Linked DNA regions of Homo sapiens: all the other regions are linked to region 3. The links come from fine-mapping of genetic effects on gene expression. A gene starts in region 3. Each other region holds a variant in brackets. All regions are shown on one strand. Distances are from middle to middle. Region 1 holds the start of LOC105375426 (a long non-coding RNA gene). Region 2 overlaps GIGYF1 (GRB10 interacting GYF protein 1). Region 3 holds the start of STAG3 (STAG3 cohesin complex component).

Region 1 (8,171 bases), 88 kb before region 3:
CTGTGCTCCCCGTTGATTGCAAAGGGTAATGATTAAACAGGTCATTTGAAAACAAAAGCCAACAGCTCGGATTCTGAACCGCGCCCCCACCCCTCACACAAAGCCCCCTCTGGCTGTTGACACCTTCAGATCCTGCTTCTGCCTGCCCTCTGCCCCCCACTCCCTAGCCGGGCTGGACGTTCCAAGGCTTGGAGGTAACAGAACAGCCTTGTTTTTCCAAGTCTTGGCCCTCAGCCCTGGGCAGCCCCCTGGCTGATTTCTCGGCCACCATTCAAATGAGGATGATGACTCAGGCTGCGGCTGTGCACAGGGCCTGGGTGCTGGAAGGAGGGGGCATTTGGGGGCTTCTTAGAAAGGCAGCAAAGGGCAGGGTCCCTCAGCCCCTTTCCCTTGGTGGAGAGACTGGCCTTCTTCCAGCCCCCAACTCAGGGTCCCCTTTGGGTACTCATGGATAGGCGTGTCTCTGGGGTCAAGCCCCCCTGCTGGCCTCTGGGAACACAAGAAAACCTGTCCCTCAGTGGGTCCCCCTTCCTCCCTCCTGCAGAAAGCAGCCTGTCCTGTCCCAGGCCCAGGTGACCCAGCTGACTAGTCCAGTTTCAAGATGACTCAGAGGCCAAAGGCCATCTCTGTTTCCATGGTCCGGCCTCAGAAGGTGCGGAACATTCGTCAAATGCCTGAGGACCTGCCACCCCAAGCACTCTGAGCCCGGATCGTGGCTTCAGGTCATGTGTGACCAGAGCCCGCTGCCTGCGTGGCTGAGGCAAAGTCTCTCCTCTGGCTCACACTTTGTCCGTCTGTAAAATAGAGATAGCACTACTTGGCCCCCTCATGGACACAGAACTGCTGTGTGGATGGTGTGGGACGATTGTGGGAAATGGCTTTTTAGCAAGTGTTAATGGGTCGCAGCCTGCGAACATAGCATTTAAACTGTTTTCAATAATCAGCCATCCAGGTAGAACCCCTTAGATTCTTCCTGTAATACCTGCCCCCAGGTGGTGACCCATAGCTCTGTCACCTCCCTCTCCAAAACCTACGTTTAGCCCAGACTAGGACAGCATGCCCTGAGGGTCCCTGTGCCACCTGTTTACTTTTCTTTTTTTTTTTTTTGAGATGGAGTTTTGCTCTTGTCCGGGCTGGAGTGCAGTGGTGCCATCTCAGCTCACTGCAGCCTCCATCTCCCAGGTTCAAGCGATTCTCCTACCTCAGCCTGCCGAGTAGCTGGGATTACAGGCATGCACAACCACGCCTGGCTAATTTTGTGTGGAGACGGGGCTTCTCCATGTTGGTCAGGCTGGTCTTGAACTCCCGACCTCAGGTGATCCACTGGCCTCCACCTCCCAAAGTGCTGGGATTCCAGGCGTGAGCCACCACTCCCGGCCCGGTTACAGTTTTGTCAGTCACTCTATAGCATCAAATCGTTGACATGGCATTCGAGGCCCTTTGGGATCTAGATCCTGAATCCTCATCTTTATTTTTTTGTTTTTTATTTTTCTCTTTTAGAGACAGAGTCTTGCTCTGTCGTACAGGCTGGAGTACAGTGGCGCCATCATAGATCAATACAGCCTCCAACTCCTGGGCTCAAGCAGTCCTCCCACCTCGACCTCCCAAAGTCCTGGGATTACTGCTCCTGGCCTTGAATCCTCATCTTTAGCCCTCCCCCAGCAAATACACAATTTCCCTTATTGTTCCCTACATACCTCTGTGCCTTCGTATCTACCTCTCTTCCATCTGCCTGGAATATTCTCCCCCATCCACCCCTAGTAAATTCCTATTCAATCCTCAAGAGCTAATGATAGCACGCTGAAACCTTCCTGAACCTTTCCCTCCGCCCCTTAGCAGACTTAAGTCACTTCTCTCTCGTGCAGTGGAGTTGTGGAAAGGGAATGGCATTAGGAAACATTCACTCTGTGTGGGGGTGTGGCTGGGTCCAAGGGATGCAGAGATACCTTGCCCCTTCCTCTGCCAAGCCCTAGAGCCTGGTGGAAGAGAAAGAAAGAGGCCATCACTCTACAGCAGGGTGGAGTCAGGGAAGGGCTGGTCTAGCAGGGTACCTAGAAGGCTGGGTGCCTACCTGTAGGAGGTGGCACTAGATCTTAGAGCTTTTTGTTTGTTTGTTTTTAAGAGATGGGGTCTCCGTTGCCCAGGCTGAAGTACAGTGGCACCATCATACCTCACTGCAGCCTCGAACTTCTAGGCTCAAGCAATCCTCTCACCTCGGCCTCCCAAGCACCTGGGACTGCGGGTGCGCACCACCACACTCAGCTAATTTTTAAATTTCTTGTAGCGATGGGGGTCTCACTGTGTTGCCCGGGCTGGCCTTGAACTCCTGGCCTCACATGATCCTCCCACCTCAGCCTCTCAGAGGTGCGTGTGGACATAACATTTAAACTGTTACAGGCATGAGCTGTTGGTCAGGCTGGTCTCGAACTCCTGAACTTGTGATCCGCCCATCTGGGCCTCCCAAAGTGCTGGGAGGCGTGAGCCACCATGCCTGGCCAGTGAACACTAACGTCTTAAGAGGCATTTATGAGAGAAAAGCTTAAAATTGCAAAAAGTCCATGCAGAGCCCTCGTCATTCCTCGGAGCACATTGGGCTGAGGCCACTGTCTGATTGCCCTTTAGGGAAAGACAGGCTAGCCCAAGGGAGTTAGAGCCCTGGGACACCTCGGCTGGAATCCCAGCACTGCTCATCCTGGCTGTGTGACCTTGGGCAAGTTGCTTGACTTCTCTGTGCTATGTTTCTTACCTGTAAAACAGGGATGATGATCATGCCTGCAACCTAAGTGGTTGTGAGGGCTTGATGAGATAAACCACGCCAAGCACTCTCAAGAGTATCTGGTCTACTAGAAGCTCCAATAAGCATTTTTTTTTTTTTTTTGAGACAGAGTCTTGCTCTGTTGCCCAGGCTGGAGTGCAGTGGCATGATCTCAGCTCACTGTAACCTCTGTCTCCCAGGTTCAAGCGATTCTCCTGCCTCAGTTTCCCAAGTAGCTGGGATTACAGCTCTCTACCACCATGCCTGGCTAATTTTTGTGTTTTTAGTAAAGACACCTGGAACTCCCAAAGTGCTGGATTACAAGTGTGAGCCACTGTACCCAGCCATTAAGCATTAACTGGGAAGGCCCTGGGGCCACTGGCCAGCACCAGTTTGTGAGGGCAGAGCCAGAAAAGCCCAGGCTTAGAAGACTTTTTACACACACACATAACGCATCCTGATTCTGGAAAGTGGAGATGCTGTCACTGCTCTCACAGAACTAAGCCAAGGACCTCACCTGTCATTTAGGTGTCAGGCCTCTGGCAGGGGCAGCCAAAATGCTCTAGGACCACAGAGCTGCAAGCCAGTAAGGCTTCCTAGAGGAGGCGGCATCATCTGATCCAAGAATGGGGTGATGGGTGGCATGAGAAAATGTCAGGAGGTGCTGGGGATAAAGCAAGATGAGCAAGCAGAGAACAGGAGTGGGTGGGTACAGATGGATCAGGGGAGGGGTATGGGTGAAGAGTGTACAGGGTGAGCCCCAGAGCCGTGCGTGTGCCCACTCAGGACAGCCATAGTCTGCTGCTGCCTAGAGAAAGGGGCTGGCTCAACCCTAGCTCCCAAATCTTTTTCCTATGACTTTTTCCTTTGTCCTTATCTCTTTCCTGAACTATCCAGATATCTTCCTGCCTCCTGCCTCTAGGGCAGCCCAAATGCTCATTGCTGCCCCATCCCTCTGGGCTGAAGGAGCAAACGCCTGGAGGCTGGAAAGAGAAAGGTGTCTGCAGGGAACAAGCCGCTGTCCTGTGGTGGGTGCAAATTGGTATGCTCTGTTCACGCAGAAACCCAGCAGTGTGTACCTGCTGTAGGCAAGGCCTAATAGGAAGCGCGAAAGGAGTTTCTGTCCCATGGGAGGAAAAGACGTGAGTCCTGTGTGTTCTCCAGCAAAGGTAGAGGGTGAGAGGACCAGAGGCCCGCACAGGGGGCATGGCTGGGAGTGCAGGGGCAGGGGGGGAGTCCGGGAGGATGGAGGGACACAACTGGAGTGGGTGCTGGGTCGACTTCATGCATTCCTTCAGAATCCCTGGCCACATCTCTGCCTTGTTGGTTTTGTTTGTTTTTTCAGACAGGGTCTCACTCTGTCACCCAAGCAGGAATGCAATGGCGTGATCTCAGCTCACTGCATGCAATCTCTGCTTCCTGGGTTCAAGTGACTCTTGTGCCTCAGCCTCCCGAGTAGCTGGGATTGCAGGCATGCACCACCATGCCTGGCTAATTTTTTGTATTTTAATAGAGACGGGGTTTTGCCTTGTTGGCCAGGGTGGTCTCAAACTCCTGACCTCAGGTGATCCACCCACCTTGGCCTTCCAAAGTGCTGGGATTACAAGCGTGAGCCACCACTCCCGGCCTGAATTCTTTCTTGATCAGATGTCTTCTGTCTATCCACTCTGGCTCTGTCTACTCCCTTCCCAACACATGCTCTATTTTAGGTAACCATGGTAGTTTTGTTTTGTTTTGCTTTTGCTTTTGTTTTTGGAGATGGAGTTACACTCTGTCTCCCAGGCTGGAGTACAGTGGCACGATCTCGGCTCACTGCAACCTCTGCCTCCTGGGTTGAAGTGATGCTCCTGCCTCAGCCTCCTGAGTAGCTGAGGTTACAGGTACCACCACCATGCCTAGCTAATTTTTTGTATTTTTAATTCAGATGGGTTTTACCAAGTTGGCCAGGCTGGTCTTGAACTCCTGACCTCAAGTGATCTGCCCGCCTTGGCCTCCCAACGTGCTGGGATTACAGGCATGAGCCACTGCACCTGGCCAACTGTGGTAGTTTTTAGATTTTTTTGTACAGAGGGGGTCTCACTCTGTTGTCCACGCCGGTCTCAAACTCCTGACCTTAAGTGATCCTCCCTTCTTGGTTTCCCAAAGTGCTGGGATTACAGGCATGAGCCACTGCTCCCAGCTGCTGGTGGTTTTAAAAGCTAGGATCGGCTGGGC[G/A]CCGTGGCTCACGCCTGTAATCCCAGCACTTTGGGAGACCGAGGAGGGCAGATCACAAGGTCAGGAGATCGAGACCATCCTGGCTAACACGGTGAAACCCCGTCTCTACTAAAAATAGAAAAATTAGCTGGGCGTGGTGGCGGGCGCCTGTATTCCCAGCTACTCAGGAGGCTGAGGCAGGAGAATGGCGTGAAGCCGAGATCCCGCCACTGCATTCCAGCCTGGGCAACAGAGCCAGACTCCGTGTCAAAAAAAAAAAAAAAAAGCTAGGATCCCTCCACCCCCCTCTCCTTTAAATGTCTGTCTTGGCTACTTTCTTCTAAGTCACTAGGAGATGGTAAAAGCAATACCGCAAGACTTCCGAGGCTAGGGCACAAAACGATAGCTTCTGCGTGGCGCTCCCTCTCTCCCAGATCCCTTGCTCTGTGGGAAACCAACCCCCAAGGCCTGAGGACACCCAAGCAGCCCCATGGAGAGGCCCATATGGAGAGGAACTGAGGCATCCCACCCTCAACCGGCAGAGCGGGGCTTTGAAAACAGATCCTTTCGCCCCAGGCAAGCCTTCCAATGGATTGCAGCCCCAGCCAATGCCTTGAACTGCCAAGTTCAGCCACACCTAAATTCCTAACCCATAGGAACTGTGAGAGATAATAAAAGTTTGTTGTTGTTTCAAGCCACTAAGATTTGGGGTAATTTGTTATGTAGCAACAGATAAGGAATGAAATGACCCTGCCATTTATCATTGAGACGGGAACAAACATTTTTTAGAATAGCAGGAAGTACTTAAAATAATTACTAGGTTGGCCAAGTGCAGTGGCTCATGCCTGTAATCCCAGTATGCCTGTAATCCCAGCAAGCCTGTAATCCCAGCACTTTAGGCTGATCGCTTGAGCTCAGGAATTGGAGACCAGCGGAGGCAACATGGTGGGACCCCGACTCTGCAAAAAATACAAAAAAATTAGCTAGGTATGATGGCGCCTGCCTGTGATCCCAACTACTTAGGAGGCTGAGGTGGGAGGATTCCTTGAGCCTAGGAGGTAGAGGTTGCAGTGAGCCGAGATTGCACCACTGTACTCCAGCCTGGACAACATAATGAGACTCTGTCTCATCATCATCATCATCATCATCATCATCATCTTAACAATAATAACAACAACCTGCAGACAATAGGGCAAACCTGACTATGTGATCATGCTACCTTTAGTCCAGCCAGAGAACTCTCATGAGTCCTTAAACCTAACACAGACACTTCTTGAGGTCGGCTTCAGCATCCTCTCCTCCAGGAAGCCACCCTGGTGCCTGGTGAGTGGCTTCCTGGGATCACCCATGCCTCAGGGTGCAGGATGAGAGGGCTGGTCCTGATCCCCTTCTGTCCTCACCCCCAGGTCCATGTCCAGGGCTTAGGACCGGTCGTCCCTCGGTGTTGACTTATCTCCCAGGGATCAAAAAAGTCAGTTGTAGCTGGGCGCAGTGGCTCACGCCTGTAATCCTGGCACCTGTGGGAGGGCCAAGCAGGTGCATCACCTGAGGTCAGTAGTTCGAGACCAGCCTGGCTAACAAGGTGAAGCCCCGATTCTACCAAAAATACAAAAATTAGCCGACGTGGTGGCGGGCGCCTGTAATCCCAGCTACTCAGGAGGCTGAGGCAGGAGAATCACTTGAACCCAGAAGGCAGAGGTTGCAGTGAGCCAAAATCATGTCACTACACTCCAGCCTGGGCGACAAGAGTGAAACTCCATCTCAGAAAAAACAAAAACAAAAACAAAAAAACCTTGTAAAAGGTTTAATTGGTCTCTTCTGAGCCTGCACACAGCTGGAAAGGTTTTCTCTTATAACAGATCTGCAGTATGAGAAACCAGCCCAGTTGCATCCGCGCTGGGCCAGTGGGATTCTGGGTGTCCAAGGTCCCTGTGGGCCATCCACGGTGCTAAATTAAAACTTTTTGAAAAACATTCTTTTTTTTTTTTTTTTTGAGACAGAGTCTGGCTCTGTCCCCCAGGCTGGAGTGGAGTGGTGCGATCTTGGCTCACCACAAGCTCTGCCTCCCGGGTTCACACCATTCTCCTGCCTCAGCCTCCCGAGTAGCTGGGACTACAGGCACCTGCCACCACGCCCGGCTAATTTTTTTGTATTTTTAGTAGAGACGGAGTTTCACCATGTGAGCCAGGATGGTCTTGCTCTCCTGACCTCGTGACCCGCCCGCCTCGGCCTCCCCAAAGTGCTGGAATTACAGGCATGAGCCACCGCACCTGGCCTGAAAAAAATTCTTGAGACAGGGTCTCACTGTGTCACCCTAGTTGGAGTGCAGTGATGCAATCCCAGCTCACTCCAGCCTCGATTTCTCAGGCTCCAGCAATCCTCCTGCCTCAGCCCCACTGAGTAGCTGGGACTGCAAGCACTCACCACTACACCCAGATAATTTTTGTTTTTTTTGTAGAGATGGGGTCTTGCTATGTTGCCCAGGCTGGTCTCGAACTCCCGGACCCAAGTGATCCTCCTGCCTCAGCCTTCCAAAGTGCTGGGATTACAGGTGTGAGCTACGGTGCCTGGCCTAAATGGAAAACTGGTGTCTAGGTGCCATATATACTCAGGCTTGCCCTCACCATAACACATTGAACATACTCCAACCTCTGAGCTAGATCTCTGCTCGAAAACCTGAGGTTTTGCTTGCACACCCCAATTTTTTTTTTTTTTTTTTTTTTTGAGACAGGGTCTTGCTGTCACCCAGGCTGGAGTGCAATGGTGCGATCTTGGCTCATTGCAACTTCCATCTCCTGGGTTCAAGCGATTCTGGTCCCTCAGCCTCCCGAGTAGCTGGGATTACAGGTGCACGCCACCACACCTGGCTAATTTTTGCATTTTTAGTAGAGATGGGGTTTCATCATGTTGCCCAGGCTGGTCTTGAACTCCTGACCTCAAGTGATCCACCAGCCTCGGCCTCCCAGAGTGCTGGGATAACAGGTATGAGCCACCGCGCCTGGCCATGCACCCACATTTACAGCAACCTTATTCACTAAGGCCTAAAGGTGGAAGTGACCCAGGTGTCTACTGATGGATGAACAGATCAACAAAATGGGATGTATTCACACAGAGGAATATTATTCAGAGGGGAAAAAGGAAGGAAATTCTGACACATGCTACAACATGAATGAACCTTGAAGACATCATGCTGAGTGAAATAAACTAGTCACAAAAGAACAAA
Region 2 (8,171 bases), 510 kb before region 3:
TGCACTGCCTCTTCGAGTCTATATAGAAGTTTCAATTTAGAACCCCGCCAACCCCTCGCCTTTGGCATGGAAACACCATCGGTGGTACCAGTAAGGGTCTCTCCTTTGCTGCCGACATGGGGGATTTGGGGTTCTTTCTCCTTCCCATCTTTCCTGTGCCCTTTGCAGACCTAGGCTAGCCACCCTCCACCAGGCTAGCCAGCTCCAATCTGATTTTCTTAGATTGTAGGTCTTGGTCCCCCAGCGGTCTGTCGTGCCATTGGGAAGGATTTGAGGGTAGACCTGGCCTTGGTGTCCCTGCCATTGCCTGGGGACCAGGGGCCCTGAGGGTCCCACGTGGTGGTTAGTCAAGTGGACCATGTGCTTAAACTTCTGGACTAGCTTTTTCTGCTGTTGGACACATCAGTCTTGTGTTCGTGATCTGATGCGTTAGCCCTAACTTTTACATCTGCTATTGGAATTTGGGAATTAAAGAAAAATAGCCCACTTTAGAGGAGAGAAGATGAGAGGAGGAGGCTAGATGAAGGATGTTGAAAGTCTAACAAATGTAAAATGGCTTCAAACTCACAGAATAATGCTTGCGAGTTTGGGATGGTTACTGCTACCGTGCGCACCTCCAGTCTTGCATAGTGTCAAGGATGTCGGGGCACGCTGTCGGAGCAGCTTCCTCCTTCTTTTCCCTGGCTGGAGCCCAAGGCTGGGCAAGTGGGCAAAAGGGATCACAGGAGGTAAAGAGTGAAAATCCTTTGAAAACTGTTAACTTGTAGACAATTGCCAAGCGGTGGTGTGATTTGCTGGGATGGCTCAGAGAGGAGAGAGCTGGGATAACCGACCAGCCGCGAAGAATGCGGGTTTGCATCTCTTTTTTAAGCCTCAGCGTCCTCACCCTACCACGCTTGGAGAATCTCCATCCTGAGAAAGGGCCAGGTCCCCTCCAGCAGGCCTGGGGCTGGGCGGTTGTTCCAGTGTTGAGGAATTGGGGACTGTGCTTCTGTTTAAGTGGCTCTGTTCTGTGCCAAGGCACAGTGCTCTGTGTTGGAGCTAATTTTAGGGGTGATGGAGTGAGGAGATAATGTTCTTAGCTGAATGTGCACTGGGACCGCCTGTTCTCTGTCTTTTCTTTCTCTCTTGAGTTCTGAGCCCCAGAGAGCAGGCTCCCTTTCCCGCGCGCCCTGGCGCCTACTGGAGCACCCGGGCCCAGCGTGTCCTCGCCCCTTGTCTCCGGCAGGGGGCAGTCTTTCAAAAGCATTGATTCAGATGCTGGGGGAGTGAGGGTAGACAGGCCCGAGAAAGAGAAGGGGTGGGGAAGGGGCGAGGAGCCGAAGTAGGCCGAGGCTTGAGGGCAGGGCCAGGGCGGGGGACAGGCTGGAAGGGGCCTGTGAGAAGGAGACCCTGAGCTGAGAAAGCTCAGCCGGGTAAGCTGAGACGGGCAGGTGGCAGTACCCCAGCCCCCGCCACCTCCTGCTCTTACCTTCATTGGACAGGGATCAGATACCTGGCCCTGAGAGCTTGCAATAGACAAACTTAGGCAGTTTTTCTTAAAAAAAAAAAATCTATTCTTTTCTCAAAGATTTTCTCCTGGCAGGATTTCAGATTTCCCTCGTGGGACAGTGTAATTAGGGAATGATGTCCCTGCTGTTCAGAGAGGAGAATGACCCAGCGTGCACACACCTGCCTTCCCTTGCCTTCCCCTTGGCCCAGTAGACCCCCAAGGGCTGTGCCCATGCTCGTGGCGCAGAGGAGGGTGTCTCAGCACTGGCGCACTTGGTATCTGGAGTCACATAGCTCTTGGCTGTGGGGCTGCCCTGTGCACCCCCTGCCCAGTGGTGACAACCCAGAATGTCTCTAGACTTGGCCAAGAGCCCCCTGAGGAGCAGAGGTGCCCCCAGTCCAGAACCTGTTGGAGGGTGGGAGCCCCATGGTGGCCTGCAGGTGTGCCACTAGTTCCTTTAGTCCAAGGAAGGGGCCAGGCACCATCAGCTTCCGGCACCAGACCCTGCTGTGGGGGTGCCTAGAGAGTTAACCTCACTCTCCTGGTTTCTTCCCAAGAAGGCGGGTGGCATGGGCTTTTTCCTGCTCTGGGCCTGCTCTCTCCCCTGTCTTGGTGTCGCTGTCCTCAGTCTGCATGAACCATTCCCCCTTTGTGTGCCCCTTGCAGCCAAGACACAGCCAGGATGGGTGACTTGAGCCGGAGGCACCTAGGAGAGCTGCCCTTGCTGCGCCTGGCAGGGGGCAGTGTGAGGCCATCGCTTTAAATTTTTTTTTTTTTTTTTTTTTGAGACAGAGTCTTGCTCTGTTGCCCAGGCTGGAGTGCAGGGGCGCAATCTCAGCTCACTGCAACCTCCGCCTCCTGGGTTCAAGCGATTCTCCTGCCTCAGCCTCCCGAGTAGCTGGGATTAGAGGCACCTACCACCAGGACTGGCTAATTTTTGTATTTTTAGTAGAGACAGGGTTTTGCCACGTTGGCCAGGCTGGTCTCAAACTCCTGACCTCAGGTGATCTGGCTGCCTTGGCCTCCCAAAGTGCTGGGATTACAGGCATGAACCACCACGCCTGGCCACTTTTTCTTTTTTAAAAAATGTTTAGAATTGTTTCTGTAGAGTCGTGGTCTTGTTCTGTTACTCAGGCTGGTCTCGGACTCCTCTCTTCAAGCCTCCCACAGTGCTGGGATTATAGGCATAAGCCATTGTGCTGGCCAGGTGGTCCCTTTTCTGTTCTACTCTCTCCCACCCTCATGCCTCCAGGATGAGCTTCTGGCCTTCTAGAAGGAATGAACTGGAGGAGGCCCAAAATGGCCTCTCCTGAGGCTGATTTGAAGGAATGTGGGGTGTTTTTCTTGGAGTGGGGAAAACTTAGGTATGCGGTGGTTATCTCCAGATACCTTTTGTTCCCTAAAGCTTTTTTAAAAAAATGATTATTGTGGTAAAATATACAACAAAATTTGGAGACTTTAACTGTCTCTAATTGTGCCATTCTGTGTTACTAAGTACACTCACATTGGTGTGCGGCCATGACCACCAGCGGCCCCAGGATCCCCTCCTCAGTTGAGGCTCTGGACCCTTCAGCAACAGCTCCCTGTCCCCTCAGCCCCTGGTGGCTGCCCTTCTACCTTCCTCCCTCAATGAGTGACTGCTCTAGAGACCTCATGAAAGAGAAGTAAGGGGTAGCTCTCCTTTTTTGGCTGGTGTGTTTCTCTTAGCGTGATGTCCTCAAGGCTCATCCAGTCCCCAGATTGCTCTAGGTGGCCACCTGCAGTCAGTGACAGGCTGGTGGCTTTTCATGTCATGGAACACACCACCACTGGAGCATCCAGCCGAGGCAGAGGAAGGAGAGGTCCCAGGGGAGGCCAGCCTGGCCTTGGGTTGCCTCTGAGCCCGGTGTTTCCCCCTGGAGTGCCTGGACTCTGAGCAGGCCTCGGCTTGTCATGGGCTGCTGGCTCAGCTGGGGCTGATGGCCTTTCCTCCTCAGCACCCTGGTTGAACCCGCTTCCTCTTCTTTCCCAGACTGTGGCGTCCTGGAGTTGATGGGAGCTGCAGCACCAAGCCGGGCCAGCCTCCCTCCCAGCCAGTGACAACACCGCAGCACCTGGACCCCGCCCACCCGCTTGAGTCCTCTGCCTGGGGCCCCAGGGATGCGCCTCCTCCTGAAAGTCCCCTCCATCCTCCCTTAGAGGAACAGGCTGCCGCCGCGCCCCCATCAGCCTCCATTGCCCTGACCTTATTTCCACCTGATGGTGCCAGAGGCTGCTTCCCAGCTGGTATCCTGAGATCCTCGTTCCCTTGGTGGCTTGGTTGTTTAAGCCTCCATTATTGATTGGGGGCGGTGGTCTGGGTGTGATTCCTGTGGGGGAAACCAGCCCGAGGTGCCTTGGCTCAGGCTTGCCTGCCTGGAGTCCTTGTCGTGTACCCGTCTGTGGCCCTAGAGTCACCTCCTGCTCCTTTTCACTGGGTTTCTCCCCAGACCAAGCCCCTGGATTTGAGCTTCTGAGCAGCCAACTGATTTTTTTCATGAG[G/A]GAAAGAATTTTGCTCCTAGATTTATTTCTAATCCTTTTCTCCGTAACTGACCTTTTCTCTGTAAGCTATTTGTGGCTCTAGTGGGTTTTTGTTTGCTTGCTTGTTTTTGTTTTATCTTTGCCCTGAACGTCCATCCTGGCCTCGGCTGCCTCCCTCCCCGAGTTCTTCACTACACCTCCTGTCTCAGCCTCCCAGAGAGGGTGGCGAGGGTGCTGATGCCCAGAGACACCATCCGGCGAATGGACCTCTCCTGTCATGCGGGGCAGGGCAGGGCTGCCGGCAGAGCCATGTCCTGAACCCTCCCTCCTCCCCCCTGCTCTCCTTAAGGGTCTTTCCCAGATGTGAAGGTCCCTCCCAGGCTCTACTGAGGTCAGACCAATTCCCAGTGGCTTGGGTACCCTCGTTCACTCCAGCACCAGCCCCTGCCCTCCTTCTTCCCGGGCCAGGCTGCCAGGTGAGCCCCGGGCCAAGGGTGGTTGCCCTGCTGAGGCCGAAAGGACTCGAGCTTCCCATCTCCTCGCCTCCCCCAGGTCTTTCACCGTCTGGACTCATCTCTGGGTAACTCATGGTGTGAGTGGCCACGTGGCTGGCTCAGGTGAGTCCTTTTAGACCCCAGGTGACCCACCAGCTAGTCCGGGGCCCATTGTTGTGCCCACTAGGATGTCCCCCATGGTGTCCTCCCTGCGCTTTAAAGTTCTCCTTCGTGTGCTGTTCTTCATGGCCCCTGTTCCCCCACAGGTGTTTGGACAGTGAACGCCAGGTCCCCTCCTCCCCACCCCCGGCCTCTCAAACACGCCCAGCCCCACGATGGCAGCAGAGACACTCAACTTTGGGCCTGAGTGGTGAGTCACTTGTGCCTCGGCTGCCGTGGAGATTCGAGAAAGCACAGTCAGGCTGCCCTGACCTCTGTCTTCTTCTCTCTGTGTTGTGTCCAGGCTCAGGGCCCTGTCCGGGGGCGGCAGCGTGGCCTCCCCACCCCCGTCCCCTGCCATGCCCAAATACAAGCTGGCTGACTACCGTTATGGGCGAGAGGAAATGCTGGCTCTCTACGTCAAGGAGAACAAGGTGGGTGCGTGGGCGAGGGGGGTTGGCGGTGGTGGCCTCTGCCTGTGGAGGGGATCTGGCAGCATGTGGTGTCTTGGCTGTCCCAACCCACTGCCAGGTCCCGGAAGAGCTGCAGGACAAGGAGTTCGCCGCGGTGCTGCAGGACGAGCCACTGCAGCCCCTGGCTCTGGAGCCGCTGACTGAGGAGGAACAGGTGGGACCGGGCCAGGAGCTGAGGCTGCGGGAGCCTGGGAGGGGAGGCCATGGGTTGGGTTAGGAGGAGAGGGGCCAGCGCTGAGGAGACAGGCGGGGAGGGTGCTGTGGGGTGGGGGTGGAGGTGGTTGGGTGCCTGGGTCCTCACTCCCGCCCCTGGCTCCCTCCTCAGAGAAACTTCTCCCTGTCAGTGAACAGCGTGGCTGTGCTGAGGCTGATGGGGAAAGGGGCTGGCCCCCCCCTGGCTGGCACCTCCCGAGGCAGGGGCAGCACGCGGAGCCGAGGTAGAGGGGTGATGGCGTGTCCTGGGGACGGGCAGATCTGGGCCCCTGACTTCGAGAACGTGCAGCAGGTTTCATTGTGCGTCTGGCCTCTTCTCTAGGCCGCGGCCGTGGTGACAGCTGCTTTTACCAAAGAAGCATCGAAGAAGGCGATGGGGCCTTTGGACGAAGCCCCCGGGAAATCCAGCGCAGCCAGAGCTGGGATGACAGGTGGGGCGGGGAGGGGGCATGGCGCAGAGCCGGGCAGGCCAGGGAGGGGAGGCCTGGGCCCTGTCGCTAGAGGGTAACAGAGGCCCACCAGATAAGCCCTGTCCGAGATCCCGGTGCTCCTGACCCCTGGTTTCGTTTGTCCCCTTCCTCCCTCCACTGCCTCAGGGCACAGTGGACAAGGCATGGGGCGGTTGCACAGGGTGGCAGGGGAGGCTGTACTGTTTCTGACCCACACGTTTCCCCTGCTGCAGAGGCGAGAGGCGGTTTGAGAAGTCAGCAAGGCGGGATGGAGGTACGAGGCTGCTGAGGGCGGCGGCCGGGGCGGCAGGGAGGACCAAGATGGGTGGCCCAGTCTGGGGGTGCTTATTTCGGAGGTGTTGGGGGCAGGAGGGCCTGGAGCTGGCCCCCCCAACGTTTCTTGAGGGTCCAGGCACCACGCTGCCTTTCTAATAACTGCCCCTGTCTTCCCGTCTCCCAGCACGATGTGGCTTTGAGGAGGGAGGGGCTGGCCCAAGGAAGGAGCACGCCCGCTCAGACAGCGAGAACTGGCGCTCCCTACGGGAGGAACAGGAGGAGGAGGAGGAGGGCAGCTGGAGGCTCGGAGCAGGGCCCCGGCGAGACGGCGACCGCTGGCGCTCCGCCAGCCCTGGTGAGATTGGGGCCTGGTAGCATTGGCGGGGGCAGTGGGGAGCAGGAACTGTAATGAGAGGGTGGGCTCCTGTAGCCACGGGGAGGGAGCAGAGGCTGGCTGGTGTGGGAGTGGCCGGGACAGCAGCCCTGGAGGTGCTCCGTGAGCTGCAGCAGAGGGGGCCGCTGGCTTCGCTTGGGTACCCACTCTTCTTCTCCCTGACTTTTCCTGTGCAGATGGTGGTCCCCGCTCTGCTGGCTGGCGGGAACATGGGGAACGGCGGCGCAAGTTTGAATTTGATTTGCGAGGGGATCGAGGAGGGTGTGGTGAAGAGGAGGGGCGGGGAGGGGGAGGCAGCTCTCACCTGCGGCGGTGCCGAGCGCCTGAAGGCTTTGAGGAGGACAAGGATGGGCTCCCAGAGTGGTGCCTGGACGATGAGGATGAAGAAATGGGCACCTTTGATGCCTCTGGGGCCTTCTTGCCTCTCAAGGTATCTGTGAGGAGGCGAGGGTGGGAACCTGCCCTTCCGGGGTCCTCTTCCTCCCCACCCACCCCAGCTGTTCTCTGCTCCCCACCCCGGCCCCATGCAGAAGGGCCCCAAGGAGCCCATTCCTGAGGAGCAGGAGCTGGACTTCCAAGGGTTGGAGGAGGAGGAGGAACCTTCCGAAGGGCTAGAGGAGGAAGGGCCTGAGGCAGGTGAGCCGCGGGGTGCCCAGCGGGCCTGGGGCTGGGCCGGGCAGGCACTGGTGTTCTTTGCCGGGCTGGGCATTGGCTGCCCACCTACCTGTAGAATCAGGCTACTTAGATCTGGAAGAAGAGTGCTGAGAGGTGGGGAGGAACCAGGGGGTAGCAGAGCCATGTCTTCAAGGCAGTGTACCAGATAGAAATCAGGCGTAATCAAAATGACCTTTGAAAGTCCCTTGAAGAAGCTGTAGAACCTGGAGTGACGTCTGCGGTGTTGTGTGGTGTTGTGCGATGTTGTGATATGTTCCTGCCGCGTCTGGCAGCGTGGAGGCGAGGGTCAGGGCACCGCATTCCCTCTGCCATTAGTTGAGTTGACCCAAGTGAAGTGGTGGACTCGGCCTAAGGGAGTGTGACCCGCGGTTCCAGCCACACTCAAGGGCTTGTGCTAACTCGCGTGGCAGGCCCAGCCCTTGGTTCTGAACTCTGGCCATCTCCCTCTTCTAGGTGGGAAAGAGCTGACCCCACTGCCTCCTCAGGAGGAGAAGTCCAGCTCCCCATCCCCACTGCCCACCCTGGGCCCACTCTGGGGGACAAACGGGGATGGGGACGAAACTGCAGAGAAAGAGCCCCCAGCGGCCGAAGGTAGGAAGGGAGGATGGCCTACCTCCCGGGTGCGCTGGGGCTGTGGGAGAAAGTGCTCCCCACTCGTGGGGGTGGGCACACAGGGCATTCACATTGAGGAGCCATGGCAAGAGCGTGGTGTTCTGGAGTGAGAGTAGGCGAAAGCTATCTTGTCTCCTCCCCGCCCTTCTTTCCACCTCCTATCTCATGCCTTCCAGATGATATTCGGGGGATCCAGCTGAGTCCCGGGGTGGGCTCCTCTGCTGGCCCACCCGGAGATCTGGAGGATGATGAAGGCTTGAAGCACCTGCAGCAGGTGTGGGGGCCTGAGAAAGCGGGAGGGACCCTTCCCACTTCTGACCTGACCTGCTTGGCCCCAGCCCCGGCCCCAGCTCAAGCTCCATCCCCATCCCCATCCTGATGTTGCTGAGATTGGCAGCTGAGCCTTTCTTCTTTTTCTGGGCATCCAGGAGGCGG
Region 3 (8,165 bases):
ATATAACCACCCTATTCCCTCCATATAAAAGGCTAATTAATTATGGTTTCTCTGTCTCTCACCGCACCCCATCTCCATGAGAAAAACATATCCAGATTTTAAGAAAAAATGAGCTTATTGTTAGTAGGAAGTTGGGACAAAGTCTTTTTTTTTTTTTTTTTTGAGACGGAGTTTCACCCTTGTCACCCAGGCTGGAGTGCAATCGCATGATCTCAGCTCACTGCAACCTCCGCCTCCCAGGTTCAAGCGATTCTCCTACCTCAGCCTCCCGAGTAGCTGGGATTACAGGTGTTTCACCGTGTTGGCCAAGGTGGTCTCAAACTCCTGACTTCAGGTGATCCACCCGCCTCGGCCTCCCAAAGTGTTGGGATTATAGGCATGAGCCACCACACCCGGCCGGGACAAAGCCTTAAAGGAAAACTTTCACATGAAAGCAATGGAGATGAAGAATGAGGAAATGAGGCAGGAGAAGGACAACTCTTCCTAGTATTCTCTCCGAAGAAGAGAATCAAATGATACTCACTTAGCAGGTAGCGAGATCACTGCTCTTTGTAGAGAAAGATAATCATGGCTCAGGAAGTCATCTATCATTCATCCATAAATGGGAGAGTAATATGTATCTAGAGTTAAATTTCACCCCCTTGAAACATAAACCACATGTCTTATCAATTCAAGTTTATAACTTTGATATAATCTGGTCCCCCACAGCAGCACTGACAGAAACAGAAATGATTCAGAGAAAGCCAATTAAAACAGCCAGGGGATAAAGCAGATCTGTATGAAATTCGCTTTTTTCCTTCTGGAAAGGTAAAAAACCAAGATATATTATTATAACCTACACAGAATAAACTCATATATGGTAATAAATAAGGATACACAGACCTATTTACAAAATCCCCAAGTAGAAGAAATAGGGGACACTAGCCAAAAAGTATATACAATTTACCAGGCAACAAATAAAGAACTCTTTACTCCCCCATCTGCCAGCTCTCAGCCCCCACCAGGGTTGGTACATGCTGAACATAGAAATGTGTTTAAGAGAGGTTTAGACAAGATGGATGATGGATTAAAAACAGGATGTGCTTGAACCCAGGAGGCGGAGGTTGCAGTAAGCCGAGATCGCGCCACTGCACTCCAGCCTGGGCGACAGGGCGAGACTCCGTCTCAAAAAAAAAAAAAAAAACAGGATGTACTACTATTTTGATGTCTACAACATCTAGGACCGCCAAAAAAAACACCTGGAGCTGGAGGGAGGGTGTCACTGTGCTGAACGAGTATAGCACTTCTGGTGTTTTCACACAGTCCCACGCATATTATCATCAATGTGGGAAAACGAGGGGGAAGGCTGCCAGGGACACAGGAAGTGGCCACACAATGCAACATCTACTTACCCCTCTGAGGTATGGTTTGAGTCCCTGTCATCAAAGGGTAGACTGGCAGAGGAACTAGAAGATGCAGACAAGGCCCTCTTGGTATCTCCCACAGCTCTTTGCAACGGGGAAGACATGCTTGGAGAGGAGGAGCTATGAGGCCAGGAAGATGAGGACCACAGGGTAGGTATGGCGATCCAGCTGGGGAAGAAAGAGAAGAAAGGGCTCCTACCACAGCACTTCTCCATCCCCAGCCCTGACCAGTCCCTTTCTTTCCAAGGGAATGGTTCTAGAACTCTGGGGTCAGGTGAGGGGGACCAAAAACTAAGACAAAGGCTGGGCACCGTGGCTCATGCCTATAATCCCAGCACTTTGGGAGGCCAAGGCAGGAGGATGGCTTGAGCCCAGGAGTTCAAGACCAGCCTGGGCAATACAGCAAGACCCCATTTCTAAAAAAAAAATAATAATAATCATTAGTCAGGTGTGGTAGAGCATGCCTGTATTCAGCTATTCAGGAGGCTGAGGTGGGAGGATTGCTTGAGTCCAGGAGTTCAAGGCTGCAGTGAGCTACGATCGCACCACTGTACTCCATCCAGCTTGGGTGACAGAAGAAGACCCTGTCCCCCCTCAAAAAAATAGTAATGATAAATAAGACAAATGGCTGGGCACAGTGACTCATGCCTGTAATCCCAGCACTTTGGGAGGTCGAGGCAGGCAGATCACCTGAGGTCAGGGGTTCGAGACCAGCCTGACCAACATGGAGAAACCCCATTTCTACTAAAAATACAAAATTATCCGGGTGTGGTGGCATATGCCTGTAATTCCAGCTACTTGGGAGGCTGAGGCAGGAGAATCGCTTGAACCTAGAAGGCGGAGGTTGTGGTGAGCTGAGATCGTGCCACTGCACTCCAGCCTGGGCAACAAGAGTGAAACTCCATCTCAAAATAAATAAATAAATAAGACAAAGAGCTGACCTAAGGCATCAAGGGATTAAGCACAACAACACCCCAGAAACTGGCCAGCAGGTTTGGAGTTGCTCTCCAAAAGCTGAGGAAGTCACACACCAGGGTAGCTTCAGACACATCTCTCTCTAGAGGCTGTGGAAGTGCAAACTGCCTACTGCAAGGAAATTTAACTCATAGGTATTTTCTTTAAAAAAAAAAATTGCACACTGGGTGTGGTAGATCATACTTGTAATCCCAGAACTTTAGGCGGCTGAGGCGGGAGGACTGCTTGAGCCCAGTAGTTCAAGACCAATCTGGGCAACATAGCAAGACCCCATCTCTACAAAAAATAAGCAAAAACTAGCTAGGTGTTGTTGCGCACACCTGTGGTCCCAGCTACTCAGGAGGCTGAGACAGGAGGACTGCTTGAGCCCAGCAGTTTGAGACCAGCCTTGGCAACATGAGACACACCCAAAAAAAAAAAAACAAAACCCAAGCAAGGTACACACCAGGGCAGCTTCAGACACAGCCCTCTCTAGAGGCTTCAGAAGTGTAAACTGCCTGCTGCAAGGGAATTTAACTCATAATTAAAAAAAAAAAAAAAAAGGCAAGGTGCCCAGGGTGGCTCAAACCTGGAATCCCAGCACTTTGAGCAGCTGAAGCAGGAGGACTGCCTAACCCTACGAGTTCAAAATCAGTCTGGGCAATATAGCAAGATCCTGTCTCTACGAAAAAACCAAACCAAAACCAAAAAAACTAGCCAGGTGTGGTGGTGCACCTGTAGTCCCAGCTACTCGGCAGAATGAAGCGGGACGATCGCCTGAGCCCAGGAGGTCGAGGCTGCAGCGAGCTATGACTGCACCACTGCACTCCAGCCTGGGAAACAGAGCGAGACTCTGTCTCAAAAAAAAAAAAAAGTAATGACAAATAAATAAAATAAGGCAAAGAGTGGACCTAAAGCACCAAGGGATTACAGACACCAGAAACTGGGCAGTGGGTTTGGAATTGCTCTCCAAAAGCCGAGGCGTGGTGCACAGTGCTCCCGCCTATAATCCCAGTACTTTGGGAGGGCGAAGCGGGAGCATCGCTTGGGTCCAGGAATTCAAGATCAGCCTGGGCCACATAGCAACGCCCTGTCTCTAAAAAAAAAAAATTAAATGGAAAAAAAAAAAAAAGCCAAGCAAGGCAGACAGCAGGGCAGCTTCAGACGCACCCCTCTCTGGAGGCTTCGGAAGTATAAACCGCCCTCTGCAAGGGAACTTACAGGTTTTTTAAAATGAAATAAAAAAAATAAAGAAAGAAATAAGAAAAAAAATACAAGAAGACCCCAGGCTTTCGTTTCCAGAGGACTAGCACCTGATTCCACCTGGAATGGAACAGGAGGCTCTTAAGGATTTGGGGGTGGAGGCGCCATGAGAATAGGGCTGGAAACGCAAAAGGAGGAAAGGCAGGTGCGCGTTTCCTATTTTTCCAGAAGGTAAAAATATCTACGACTGCCCCTGGGGTAAGCGGCTCCAGGATAAAGAGCCTTCCAAGCGCTTAAGAGAATGGACTCTCAGTCTATGGAGGCCTGGGGAGAGGATTCTCCAGCTCTGTGGCGGAGGCCATTGGGGCACGGCCCGGGAAGGCTCCTAGTGTCAGGGCCGGGAGGGTCGCGAGAGGGCCTATTCTTGGGTCAAGGAGAAACCTGTCAGAGCCTGGAAGAGTGACTTCTGGCCGAGCAGGGTTCAGGGAAGGTCCCCACCTCAGGTCCCTCGGGTGTCTCTGGCCACCCCACCTTCCACACAGGCGCCCGCCGCTGCCCTTCCGGGGGCGAAAGATTCCAGAAAAGCGCGGGAACGTACAAGACACGCTGTGCGCAAGCGCAATCCCAACGGCTCGCCCAGGGCCAGTAGCTATCGCGAGGTTTGGAAGTGTGCGAGCTGATGCGCGCCACGTTTGAGTCACGCCGCTCCACAGCCTCGTGTGGCCTCAAGCTCTCAGGCGTCCTGCCCTCTCACGTGGGCTTGGGCACGCGGGCGGCCCGCTTTAGCCCCGCCCCCACCCAGGTCCCACCCCCGCTACCCTCAATCTCCTACTCCATTGGGCGGGTTTTGGACCAGACTGCTAGTAACCCCTTTAATCTGGCTTCTCAATTGCCATAGGCTAGGTTCCACCCAGGCCCCGCCTTTTGAGCCGGATCGCCACGCCCCCGAGGGAGACCACGCCCCTATTTCACCAACCTCCTGAGTGCCAGCCGGGTCCCGCCCCCCTGCCGAGCTTCCGCGCTACATTGGCTTAATTTCTTCCTTGCCCCCGCCCCTGAAGCCGGCTCCGAGCCATTATTGGCGGGGCCCCGCCTCGGGCCCCGCCCCCTGTCCGGCTCCCCGCTCCCATTGTCTCGGCAGATGCCGCCTGGTCCAGCTATCGTGCTCGGTATTCAGTTTTCCGGAGCAGCGCTCTTTCTCTGGCCCGCGGAGCGGTCCCGCGGCCGAGTACCGGATTCCCGAGTTTGGGAGGCTCTGCTTTCCTCCTTAGGACCCACTTTGCCGTCCTGGGGTGGCTGCAGTTATGTCCGCGCTGCGACCTCTCCTGCTTCTGCTGCTGCCTCTGTGTCCCGGTCCTGGTCCCGGACCCGGGAGCGAGGCAAAGGTCACCCGGAGTTGTGCAGAGACCCGGCAGGTGCTGGGGGCCCGGGGATATAGCTTAAACCTAATCCCTCCCGCCCTGATCTCAGGTGAGGAGAAAGAGGAAGACTAGAGAATTGGGGGTGGGGGGCGGGGGCGGGGCCTCCTCATCTCACAATAACTCTCTTCCTTTTCAGAGTGACCGTTATACTAATCTTTTCATCCCACAGTAATGTCTGTTCTCCTCCTGTAACTTCCTTACCGGGATCACAATAACCCTCCTATGCAAAGAATAGCGCTCTTACTCCATCCCCACCCCAGGAATCCCCTCCTCCTAATTAACACCCCCTATGTGTTTCTTTCTTCACAGCCATGTTCTCCTCGCTGTTTCTATTAGCCCCTTCTATGAGAATACTTTATTGCTCACCAAGTAACCCCACCCTTCCAAGCCCCATTCTTCATCCCCTAGAAGCTGTTCTCCAAGTCCCTCGAGGTCTGGGGTGTGGACATTGGGGAGGGTCACCTGAGGACACTCTGACCACTGACTTGGCCCTCAGGGCAGCTGTTAAATAGATGATCCCGTGGCTAATGGGAGTGAACTTGGGATGGGTCAGGAGACAATAAGGTAGGGGATAGGTTCAGGTAGGGAAGAGGGTGCAGACAATAGAAAAGAGACCAGGCAGGTAGAAGAGAAGGCATAGTCCCCAGAGATAGGCGGGAAATGGAAGGGATTTTAGGATATCACTTCCCACCATTCCTTCACGTCTCCTCTGTCCAGGTGAGCACCTCCGGGTCTGTCCCCAGGAGTACACCTGCTGTTCCAGTGAGACAGAGCAGAGGCTGATCAGGGAGACTGAGGCCACCTTCCGAGGCCTGGTGGAGGACAGCGGCTCCTTTCTGGTTCACACACTGGCTGCCAGGCACAGAAAATTTGATGGTGAGGACCTGGGGTCCCCAAACTCAGCTTCACAGCTCCTCTCGGTGCTTAGGACCCCAGCAAGGCTCCTGTCCCCACTCCTTACTCCATCTGTGAAGACTCCATCCCCTCCCAGCCCGCCCACCCCCCAGACTCTGTCTCCAGGGCCCTGCCCTCCCCCATTCCCTGTCTGCCCCATCTCTGAGAGTTACTCAGTTTCTGATTCACTTGTCTTTTCTCTTCTCTCCCATCTCCTCCTGCCTCTGCCTGTTCACTTTTCTCCCCATTCTTTGGCCTGACCTGCCTTCCACCTGTTCCCTGCATTTGCTGCAGAGTTTTTTCTGGAGATGCTCTCAGTAGCCCAGCACTCTCTGACCCAGCTCTTCTCCCACTCCTACGGCCGCCTGTATGCCCAGCACGCCCTCATATTCAATGGCCTGTTCTCTCGGCTGCGAGACTTCTATGGGGAATCTGGTGAGGGGTTGGATGACACCCTGGCGGATTTCTGGGCACAGCTCCTGGAGAGAGTGTTCCCGCTGCTGCACCCACAGTACAGCTTCCCCCCTGACTACCTGCTCTGCCTCTCACGCTTGGCCTCATCTACCGATGGCTCTCTGCAGCCCTTTGGGGACTCACCCCGCCGCCTCCGCCTGCAGGTGAGGGATCCTGAGGCCTGAGCTTCAACCACTTCTGACCTAGTGACCCCTGAACTGTGCACCACTCACCTCCAAACTGGCGTGCTCCAGTCACCTCTGACCTGGTGATCCCCCATCCTGCATTGAAGCCATTTCTGACCTGGTGATCCCTATCCTGAGCTTTACTCACCACTGCCCGACCCAGTGCCCCTTGGTCTTCTTGAAGCAGATGCCCCCACCCCTGCCACCTCCCATTCTGAGCCCTAGTTTCACACAAACACTCACCTGCCCTTAGCCTCCAGCCACCTTTGTGCCAACCCCTTCCTAATCGTAACACCTTGACTTCCTCTGGTTCAACTAAACAGGAATTGTGCATTCAATACGCAAAAGGCATTTTCTTTTATAGTATCACATTTAGTTGTCATCATAACCCTGTGAGGTAGACAGTCATGCCCTTATTTTACAGATGAGAAAACTGAGGCTCCCAGAGATTAAGCTTTTCAGCCAGTAAGTGGCAGAGCCGTGGCTCACACCCAGGTCTTCTGGCTTCAAGTTCAGTGTTAGTTCCGATACACAATTTCTCTCTCTCTAAGCCCTGTACAACATAATCCCTCCATCTCTTCCCAAGCCTTCCTTTGTTTTTCTTTAAGACTATAATTCCTGTGGGGGCTCTTGAACCTGCCTCTCTGTACCACCCAACACTCGACCCACTCTGAGAGAACCCCACACACCCAACCCTCACTGCTCTTGATGCAGTCTCTTGGCTCCAGTCTTGACTGACCCATAACAACCTTGTGGTTTTTCTCACCTTCTTTGCCTTCTCCCAGATAACCCGGACCCTGGTGGCTGCCCGAGCCTTTGTGCAGGGCCTGGAGACTGGAAGAAATGTGGTCAGCGAAGCGCTTAAGGTTGGAGGGTGCCTGAGTATGGGCAGGGCCCAGGGAGGGAGAGGTGGAAGTGAGAGAGACCCCACAAGGAAGAAACAGCCACCAGCCAGCAGGACAGGCCTTGGGCTCTGTCTGCCTCCAGGCCCTGGTGTCCTAGGATGAATTAGGAAGGAGGGGGCTGGAGTGAAACCTCCAATGGTCCACGATCCATGATCTCTGACCCCCTCCTCCCCTCTGTGGACCCATACCCTCCTCAGTCCCCAAGGGCCTGCTCATCTCCATAGCAGTAGGAGATTGGATACTGCCCCCGCCCAACCCCCCAGGATCCCTCAATGACTCCACTTCCCTGCTGCTGAAGGCCAGATGCCTGGCTTGGCCTCTCTCACTGCCCATCCTCTACCTGACCTCCCAGCCTCACCTTCTGCCTCCTGACCGCCTCCTCCCTCCCCAGCTGTGATGGGCTCACTCTTGTCCTTGAATGTTCCCTCCACCCCTAACTGCCTCTCTATTTCCACCCCTCCCACGAATCAGAGTCAGCAACCTGGAACCTCCCTCCTCAGATCTGTGACAATCTCACCTGCTGCCACGTGGGGTCACCAACCCTAGGTGTAGGGTGGGGTATGTGATTTCTGTCTGTGCCCAGCACCAAGCCAGGCTGAGAGCAGCCACAGCGTTTGTGGAGGACACAGCCCCACTCTCTGCCCCCAGGTGCCGGTGTCTGAAGGCTGCAGCCAGGCTCTGATGCGTCTCATCGGCTGTCCCCTGTGCCGGGGGGTCCCCTCACTTATGCCCTGCCAGGGCTTCTGC

The links.
Region 1: its variant is fine-mapped to the expression of STAG3 in prefrontal cortex (GTEx, PIP 0.99).
Region 2: its variant is fine-mapped to the expression of STAG3 in whole blood (GTEx, PIP 0.96).

Annotation. Positions count from the first base shown.
Region 1 is chr7:100,262,342-100,270,512 of GRCh38, reverse strand. It overlaps LOC105375426 (a long non-coding RNA gene), which reads left to right and starts at 3,029. Exons shown (of 2, transcript XR_927809.2): 1 at 3,029-3,897; 2 at 5,383-5,646. It also overlaps the pseudogene CASTOR3P. RefSeq lists enhancers at 1-187, 712-1,234. The variant G/A (reference allele first, on the strand shown) is at 4,970.
Region 2 is chr7:100,684,888-100,693,058 of GRCh38, reverse strand. GIGYF1 (GRB10 interacting GYF protein 1) reads left to right here. Exons shown (of 27, transcript NM_001375765.1): 2 at 3,504-4,467; 3 at 4,544-4,608; 4 at 4,752-4,855; 5 at 4,949-5,078; 6 at 5,176-5,271; 7 at 5,443-5,554; 8 at 5,653-5,761; 9 at 6,013-6,053; 10 at 6,240-6,410; 11 at 6,626-6,879; 12 at 6,980-7,085; 13 at 7,578-7,715; 14 at 7,913-8,010; 15 at 8,165-8,171. The coding sequence starts at 4,821. Among named protein-coding and RNA genes, the nearest start is that of GIGYF1, 5.3 kb to the left of the region's middle. RefSeq lists a silencer at 1,143-1,312. The variant G/A (reference allele first, on the strand shown) is at 4,013.
Region 3 is chr7:100,173,899-100,182,063 of GRCh38, reverse strand. STAG3 (STAG3 cohesin complex component) reads right to left here and starts at 4,146. Exons shown (of 34, transcript NM_001282717.2): 1 at 4,059-4,146; 2 at 1,392-1,571. The coding sequence starts at 1,507. It overlaps GPC2 (glypican 2), which reads left to right and starts at 4,683. Exons shown (of 10, transcript NM_152742.3): 1 at 4,683-5,030; 2 at 5,699-5,857; 3 at 6,170-6,492; 4 at 7,299-7,379; 5 at 8,067-8,165. The coding sequence starts at 4,865. RefSeq lists silencers at 4,372-4,421, 4,602-4,721.